2 separate regions of the Homo sapiens genome follow, and region 1 is linked to region 2. The links come from fine-mapping of genetic effects on gene expression. Tissue or cell type: blood mononuclear cells. Region 2 holds a variant in brackets; the other region holds the start of a gene. All regions are shown on one strand. Distances are from middle to middle. Region 1 holds the start of HEY1 (hes related family bHLH transcription factor with YRPW motif 1). Region 2 holds the start of LOC124901965 (a long non-coding RNA gene).

Evidence for each region. PIP is the estimated chance that this variant, and not a neighbour inherited with it, causes the effect.
Region 1: HEY1 starts here. The variant in region 2 is fine-mapped to the expression of HEY1 in blood mononuclear cells (TOPMed, PIP above 0.99).

What each region holds. Positions count from the first base shown.
Region 1 is chr8:79,766,076-79,770,454 of GRCh38, forward strand. HEY1 (hes related family bHLH transcription factor with YRPW motif 1) reads right to left here and starts at 1,692. Exons shown (of 5, transcript NM_012258.4): 1 at 1,500-1,692; 2 at 1,144-1,219; 3 at 934-1,017; 4 at 576-657. The coding sequence starts at 1,588. LINC01607 (long intergenic non-protein coding RNA 1607) reads left to right here and starts at 2,067. Exons shown (of 4, transcript NR_125410.1): 1 at 2,067-2,143. LOC101927040 (a long non-coding RNA gene) reads right to left here. Exons shown (of 6, transcript NR_110954.1): 6 at 3,297-4,379. RefSeq lists an enhancer at 1,215-1,264 and silencers at 1,715-2,194, 2,235-2,594, 2,695-2,864.
Region 2 is chr8:79,721,674-79,726,052 of GRCh38, forward strand. LOC124901965 (a long non-coding RNA gene) reads right to left here and starts at 2,539. Exons shown (of 2, transcript XR_007060975.1): 1 at 2,353-2,539. LOC107986893 (a long non-coding RNA gene) reads right to left here. Exons shown (of 3, transcript XR_001745722.1): 1 at 4,335-4,379; 2 at 3,916-4,033; 3 at 2,678-3,048. RefSeq lists an enhancer at 1,444-2,643. The variant G/A (reference allele first, on the strand shown) is at 1,735.

The DNA of each region.
Region 1 (4,379 bases), 44 kb after region 2:
TCAAGGGCAGAGAAACCACAGAGCAGTGAAATTCATTAGACACACAGATGTAAGTTATCATCGCGGAGCTTTTAGGCACTTGGACCTCAGTAAAGCATTTTCCTGCTGGAGAGACATACACACAGACCTTGGTCTCCCGTTAGGTTTCCTTTACTTAACCAGAATACATTTCTTTCCTCAAGAGGCATGTGGCAGCACCTTTTTTTTAAAATCCCGTATACCAAAAATAAGACCACATATTGTTTTTAAATGCTTTTTCTCAAAATAGCAATGGACAAATGTGAAAGCTACCTGATCTGAATCAGGGCTGTCACAACTTTTGAAGACCTCACAAATAATAGGTATTTTTCCAAAAGATGCACTAGCTCAATCCGCAGAGAGCTGGGGTGGTGAATTCACTGGAGAAGATTCTATGTGCATTCGAAAATGTACTGACAGGGAACTGCACACACCACACACCGTTCTCTCCCCACCCCCAAAGAAAAATCAGGCAGCTACTGCACCAATCCTGGCCTTCAGCCGCTGCTCACTCTTTGCCAACCATTCAGAGCCCCCACTAGGTCTAGGAGATGTACCTTTCCCTCCTGCCGTATGCAGCATTTTCAGGTGATCCACGGTCATCTGCAGGATCTCGGCTTTTTCTAGCTTAGCAGATCCCTAAAGATGAGAATGGCAAAAGATTGATTTGGCACAAGTTCCTTTGGGGAACAATTTAAAATATGCAAACATATATACAAAGATACATGCTTTGTAAATCGTAAAGCATGGACTAAAGCAAAATCAGTTGTCTTCACAAAATACGCTGGTATCTGTGTACGAATTCATCTAGGCACAAGCAACACAGCTATTTTCCAAGGCGGATGAGATTAATGAGGGGAAGATTCAGAAGGTGCAGATAGCTATGCTGAGAGCTTTACCTACTTGCTCCATTACCTGCTTCTCAAAAGCACTGGGTACCAGCCTTCTCAGCTCAGACAAACTGTTATTGATCCGGTCTCGTCGGCGCTTCTCAATTATCTGCAGAAGGCAAGCAAAACAAAGGAAGGCATTACCATTACGACTGTAAATTTCAAAGACAAAAAAAAAGGTGGTTATTTCCGTTAATCAATAACAAAAATAAAAGGAGAGTGTAAAGAGACTCACTCCTCTCCGTCTTTTTCTGGCCAAAATCTGGGAAGATGTAGTTGGGGACATGGAACCTAGAGCCGAACTCAAGTTTCTGAAAAGAGAAAAAGAACAAACAAAAACTGAAATCGCCGTTAAACGAGGAGAGGTGATCTGAGAGGTCGCCCCCACACCCTCCCCGCACTCAGACTTTTTTTGCCACTTGGGCTGGAAGGCACCTAGGGGTTCCCTGGCCGCAGGCTGCCGCCAGCCTGCGACGCGCGGAGGTCAGCGCAGGGCACCGGCGCGCCAAGGGTCCTAGCCCGCTGTCACCGCGGCAGGCCTGCGCTCGCCTCCCGCTCTGGCTCGGCTCCGCTCCGCCGCCGCCAGCTCACCCATTCTCGTCCGCACTCTCCTTCTCCACCTCGATGGTCTCGTCCAGCTCGCTGTCCGAGGAGCTGTACTCGGGGTGAGCTCGCTTCATGCTGGCTCCCTGGGGGTTCCTGGGGAGGGTCGGCGCGGCGGGCAGGGAGGAGTTAACTACAGCGGCGCCTCTCCGCTCTCGGCTGCTTGCGTTCCGCACACACTGATCCCGCTCACGCTTTGCCTCTGGTTAAAACTCAACCATCCTTTCCCACGCTGAGCCCCTTCCCAGGGCCCTGGGGAGGGCGGGGGAGTGGGGAAGGCGGGCGAGGGGGCGGAGAGGCGGGGCGGCAACTCCAGGGCAACAGCCGCCCCCCGGCCAATCCGGTTTCTCGCGCCGCTGATTGGCAGCCGCTCCGGGGAGGGGCGGGAGCGAGGCCGAGGGCTCTAGCGGACCGCGCCCCCGCCCTCCGCGCCCGCCCCTGCCCGGCGGCGGTGCGTCGGCTCCGCGGGGGCTCTGTCCAGCCTGCACTCAGGGGAAGGAGGAGGCGCGGGCGGCGGGGAGGCGCGGGAGGCCGGGCCGGGACACAAGCCCGCCGGCGGCCGCGGCTCCTCCCCGCCCCGCGCGCCCCGATTGGCCTGGCCGCGCGCCAGGGCCGAGCCTGCAGCGCCTCCGGTGAGCCGCACGCGCCGCGGGCCGTGGGAAAGTGCCGGCGCCGCGGCCGCCAGCCAATCCGGGCGGCCGGCGACGGCGACGGCGGCGGCCGCGCTGGCGGCGGCGGCGGCGGCGCTGGGCGTCCGCATGAATGGAGAAGAATGGGCAGGCGGGGAGCCGGGCCGCGCGAGGGCGCGCCGGCGGGGGCTGGGCGGCCGCCGGCCGGGCCCCCAGTGTGAACCTGTAATCGGAGCCTGGGCGCCGGCCGGCCTCGGAAGCCGCCGCCTAGCGCCACCGTAAATCTCGCCCGCGTGGCCGCCAGTGCCCGGCGGCTGGAGGCGCGCGCTGTTAGTGGGGCCGTGCCGGGTGCACCTGGCCGGGCTGCGCGCCGGCGGCTCCGCGGAACCCGCAGGGAGCCGGGAGAGGGGGCGCCGGGCGCGTCCACAGTGGCCACCAGCCCAGGGGCCGGTCACATGGAGGAGCAAGCTGTGGGCTCAGGGGACGCTCTTTTTGATTTCTGGGACCGAGGCCGCACATGCAGCCAGACTCGTTTCCGCAGGGGCTTCCCAGCCGCGGAATGGAATGAATACCCCTGTGCATCTCATTTCCGGGGAAGGGGAGCACTTGTTTTTTCGGCCGCCTTGGGGAAAAAAAAACCCAACGGTCCCTGGGAATAATCATTATGCTGGGATTTTTTTGTTGTTCCCCCGCTGCCCCCCCCCCCGCCCCCTCCCCCCGGCGGCCAGATCCTCTCAGCGGGCGACAGGGTGGCGGTGCTGGCGTTTGCGTCTGAGGCCGGCCTTGCTGAGGGAATGCACGTCTCTGGCCCCAGACACACACCTCTGGCTTCGGTGGCTTGGCGTGGCGTGTACTGGGTGCCACGTGAAGTCCCCCCCGAGTCCACTAAGAAGACAGATTTTTTAAAAAATACAGTTGTAAATCTCGAAACTGATTTCTGATTCCAGAAACAGAATGGTTGTTTTAAATTTGAAAATCCGGTCTTCTGTCCCTTACAAAGGTACACAGCAATTCGCATTCATCTCAGATCCACTCTGAAGCTTGTAGTCCTGTCTGTGAGGGAAAGCTTAATATCCATCGGTGAGAATAACAAAAGGCGTTTTCTCTTTGCAAAAAGCTTCCTGGTTTCTAGACTTCCTTATTGATCTCAATGCTATTTTTTTTTTGAGATGGTGTCTCACTCTGTCGCCCAGGCTGGAGTGCAGTGGCGCGATCTCGGCTCACTGCAACCTCCGCCTCCCGGGTTGAAGCAATTCTCCTGCCTCGGCCTCCCCAGAAGCTGGGATTACAGACGCGCGCCACCATGCTCAGCTAATTGTTTTTGGTATTTTTAGTAGAAACGAGGTTTCACCATGTTGGCCAGGCTTGTCTCAAACTCCTGACCAAAGGTGATCCGCCTGCCTTGGCCTCCCAAAGTACTGGGATTACAGGCCTAAGCCACCGCGCTCGGCCTCAATGCCATCTTAACACATCCTGGATGCCAAGCACTCTGAGTGGCCGGCCTGGGCCTAATCCATAGTTCCTCTCTGGGCACCCCCATCCCTCCACCACCGCCCCCAACGGGAAATACAACCTCCTGGCTCCCACTGAAGCTTATTCCACTTCACATCACCTCCAGCCCTGAGCCTTTCCATGCAGCCCCTCTGCTTCCCTGTCTAGGCTGGGCCCTTCCATCAGCCAGCCTGGGTTTGTTGCTGCTGGCACCCCAGACCTCTGGCTTCCTGAAACTCCACCGCATGCTGCCTGTTAGTTGTCAGTCCGAGGTCAATCCCACCAGCCGACTTTCTCTCTGGAAGTGCAAATTTTAAGGCTCCTTCCTGGCCCTCCCAGTCTTCAGTCCAGGGCATCCATCACTACTTCCTGCCTCTTCCCTCCCAGAAACTGATGGTCCAGGCATAGGAAACCATCCCACCTGCTCCCCTCTGCCTTCCAGAAGTCCCTCTGACCTTCCATTTCTTTCCCCAAAGTGACAGGCCACCCTTCCCCAGAACCAACGTGTCTACTTCCCCTCTGGCTCTATAGATTTTCCCAGCCTCTGGCACCTACAATGAGTCAGCCTTTCCTGCTTTGGCTCATTTCTGCTGCTGTGGAGAGGCGTGGACAAGCTGCAGATGTTGAGTGAGACGAGACCGGGTGGGGTTAGGGATGCTTAACTCTACATTGGCATCCAAATGAAATATTGCTCACATGTTCATGATTACTTTTATGTCAAAAAGGAGGTTCTCTACGGCCAGGCGCA
Region 2 (4,379 bases):
CTCACAACTAGTGGGTTGGCAAGGTGTTTTAACAGGAAAACTGAAATAGCTGGAGTCACGGACAGACGCTGGCACAACATATTGCAGAGAGCTCCGTGATGGGAGAGGCATGCCCAGGTGCCAGGGATTCTTGGAGAGGCCCAGAGCCCCATTTAGCTGTCTGGAGCTACAAGGAATGCTAAAATCTTACTGAACCATATCTGAGAGCATGGCCCACTTTAACTCAGATCACTACACAGAGCTCATTACAGAGTGGTCAAAATGTGATCTGCACCCTTTTCCACAAAAGAAGACAAAGTTCTGAAGTAAAAATTAGAAAACACTCTCCCTCATTCTGTCACTACCCCCACTAAATAAGAGTTGAACAGGATTTAAAGGTTGTCAGCTTAGCCAGGCACAGTGGCAAGTACCCATAGTCCTAGCTACTCCAGAGGCTGAGGCAAGAGGATGGCTTAAGTGCAGGAGTTCAAGTCCAGCCTGGGCAACATAGCAAGACCCATCTCCAAAAAAACAGAAAGAAAGAAAGAAATTGTTGGCTGGGCACAGTGACTCATGCCTGTAATCCCAGCACTTTGAGAGGCCGAGGCAGGTGGAATGCTTAAGCTCAGGGGTTTGACAGCAACCTGGGCAACATGGCAAAACCCCATCTATACAGAAAATACAAAAATTAGCCAGACATGGTGGCACACGTCTGTGGTCCCAGGTATTCAAGAGACTGAGGTGGGAGGATCACTTGATCCAGGGAGGCAGAGGTTGCAGAAACCCGAGATGGCACCACTGATGTCCAGCTTGGGCAACAGAGCAAGACCCTGTGTTTAAAAACAGAAAAAGATTTTCGGCTTAAGAGATGCCAAATCCCTATCCTTCTCCTGGCCCCCATCCCCTGCAGGCAACTGTTACTGAGTCTCGGCAAATAGAGCGCTATAGGAATAGCTCAGGCAAACCATCAGGGCTGATCAACAGGAGCAATCACAGCAGTGGGCAGAGCCCAGCAATGGGAAAGCAGGGTCCACTACAGCAGAAGCCCTGGCAAGCAGGCCAGTAGCATCTGGGAAGGCAATCAGGGCTCAGGTTTAAGGACATCCACAAGGACACCATGAGACAAGTGCCAGTCAGAAGGGCACTGGCAGTAGTGGCTGCAGAATTTCAATGTAGGAAGAACTTACAGGGAGCATTTTGGTTGGAAAAGAACTAGAGAAGCTGTATTTGCATAATACTCTACACAAGACTGAGAAAATGTCGATTATCCGTGTCAAAAAATAGGGATACCATGGATAGTTGAGAGGAGAGCTAAAGCCTGCAGGACCAAGAAGTTTCCTGGATTCAGAATTCTCTGAGGTCATCCCCAAGCAGAATGGTGCATTCAGAAACCAGAACACACTGCACGGGGCAGGCTCTGGCTGGAGAATTCAGCTGCAGGTGCTCTGTCCCAGCAGACAGGAGGCAGGGGGACAAGGAGGGCTTGTTGCCATCCCCAGTGCAATGCAGCAGCTCAAGCATTAGCAGAGGGACTTGCATCCTTGGTTAGCAAGCAGATCCATGAGGATGTCTGGAAGTAAGGAGGGACTTGATAGGTCTGCTTAATTGCTTCCTGCCTCAAGCCCAGATTGGTCTGGGAAAGAGGCTGGGCCCAGGCTGCAGGTGGGAGATTGCGTGGCCAGCTGTGATGAACTGGAGAGGCTGAGTAAGGGGAAATAGAAAGGGAGGTGGGGGTGGGGAGAACATGCTGAAATA[G/A]ATCCCTGAATGTCCTGGGGCCGGAGCCGGGTCACTCAATGTGGGGGAGGAACTTCCTTCCCTCTTTCGTTATTTTCCTTCCTCTCTCTTCCTCCTCACAGGCAACCAGCTAGAGGCAGGATGAGCTGTCTCAAGGAAGAAGAAATCAAAACAGCCTTTAAATTACTGGAGGTCATGTCCTGTTTGAAACAACAACAAGAAAAGAGAGCAGAGTGCTACCTCTCCTGCAGAGACCTTGCTGCCATGATCTCTAGCCAAAGAGGTTACATTAGTTCCATCTTCATAGCCCAGGGACTGAGGCTTGAACCCACAAGTCTCTCTTTCTCACTCCTTTAAAGAAACTGCTAACCACTTCCAGGTCAACTGCTGAAAGTCATGTGTTTCTTTTACTGCAGACATTTCTGCAAAGCCTTCCCCTGAGAGCCGAGCACGGATGCAATAGTCCAAGAGGTGGTGGCTGGCGCTCTTTCATCCTTGACCCATGATCTAGAACATTTGGCTTAGAGCATAAAGAGGAGATTCCCAGCACAATAAAATAGCCAGGGAGGGAACATTATTATAGGTCCCCTTTTCAACTCAAATAGGTTAGGATTGACTGACAACCTAAGAAATACTCACCACTTTTTCATTTTCAGATCAAACATAACTGTCTTCAGAGTATAAATCCTCTGAAGCCTGCCCTTCTTCCATCCAGTCCCTTGGGTGGCAGGTATTAAATGACTACTCCATGTTCTCCATAGGGAGGCAGGATGCCTTGGCAGCAGAGCACACTGTTGTCAGTACTCAGAAGCGTCTGGAAGCCACCCTCATCTTAAAATAAAAGAATCAAGATTGAGCTTGGAAAGACAAAATGTAAAATCAGTGCCTGGAAAAATAGGCCAAGTCACCTTAAGAGTCAGAATAGTTCCATGAATATATCAATCATTTGCAGTGTTGAGTGGGGACGTAGCACAGCTGGTCAACCAGCCACAAGACTATGGTAATGACCATCCAGCACATCAAGGAGAAAGGGCGACTGCACTGAGCACTTGGCTGCTGTGGTTCCAACAGAATGTAGACCTATGAGGCGATAGGTGCATCCAGCTGATTATAGTTCAAGGGCATAAAACATGCAGATTTTTTAACTTACCAAGCAACCACTAATGATAATTGGGACCTCCTGTAGGCCCCCAGAGGGAGAGTGCACCAGCTAAGAGCCAAGAGCCAAGAGCACTGCTTGAGTTTCTTCAGTGGTTCTGGATCTTAAAAATGGGCTTGGTTGCTCAGTTTACAAATGAGTTCGGTTACTATAAGTCTGCCCTTCTGAGACTGAACCTGCTGAGAGAACAAATGAATAAAATTAAGCTTCTGAGCCGCAAGATTGAGGGTTTGACTCTGAGCCATGGAAAGTCCCTCTAGGCAATGCCTCTGTATAAGCAGCTGGAGAGATAGCCTACAAATCTTTCCTGAGCTCTGAACCTCTGAACCACCCTGCCATTGCTCTTTGGTGAAATCTGCTCCTACTCTTTCTGACATAAACTAACACAAATGAAACCAGCTCTTTGAATTGGGGGAAAAAACTTCCATACTTCAGAAAATAATATAAAACAATAAGTAACTGCTAAATTGCAGGGTTCGTGGGGAGGAAAGCAGGAGCAGCTGAGAAAGGGTTGATGGAAGCAGTGGGCTTGAGTGGGCCTTGTAGGTCTACATGGGTGGACAACTGATCCAGCACACTCCAGATAGGGATGGAACAGGGAGACCCAGAAAGAAGGTGAGACGACTTCACAGAGACAGTTCAGGTTTTGATGTGCTGGAACATGACACTGGAGATTAAAGGACTGAGCAGATCTTTCAGTGTCTGAAATGCCAGCCTTTTGCAAGTTCATGGAGCAGAAATGGGTCTCAGAACACTGACCCGGTAATAGTGCATGGGCTGCTCAGACAGGAGAGGGACTAGAAGGGGGAGAACCACTAATAATCAATGCAGGTGGGTGACGAAAAGGACTATTGCATTTATATTAAATTTCCTGAGGCCTGTCAAATTCTTCTCTCATTATACTTCCAGTATAGGTTCTTGGAATAGTGAGGGGAATATATTCAGTGTGAGAAATACAGCTATAGGGGTTGGGGACATTGATGCTAGGTCCAGGGAGCATTAAACAGTAAAACAGTGTTGCTGTTATGCAAATAATCACCAACCTTGCACTCTTGCATGAGAGCTCAGCTTGTCCAGAAAATGAAGTTTTATCTTTAGATTTGCAGAATGGAGATTTCTGTAATGTTTTTAAAGGCAATCCCACGGAGTTATCTGGCTTCCCTAGAATCACAAGAAAAGGACTGTCACTGGTAAAGTGGACTCTTCTGCACACTTTATTTTATTCCTAAATGGGCCAGTCAAGTCTAGGGTTGAGGTGGCCTTAGAAACTTTTCAGGGTCAGCATTCAGGCATCAACAAAGCAGTTCTGATTTAGAGAACTCTTGAGATAAGAACCAGCTACATTCATGATTTCCCAAACTTGGCCAATTTAGAGTAAATACATGCAAACAGTCTTGTAATTGTGATTCCAAATTTTCTGATTATGCCAGGAATAAAAATCTGCAGAATTTCAAAGACTTACCATTTCTGACAATTTCGAAGTAACATGAGACCTTTTTCAACTTCA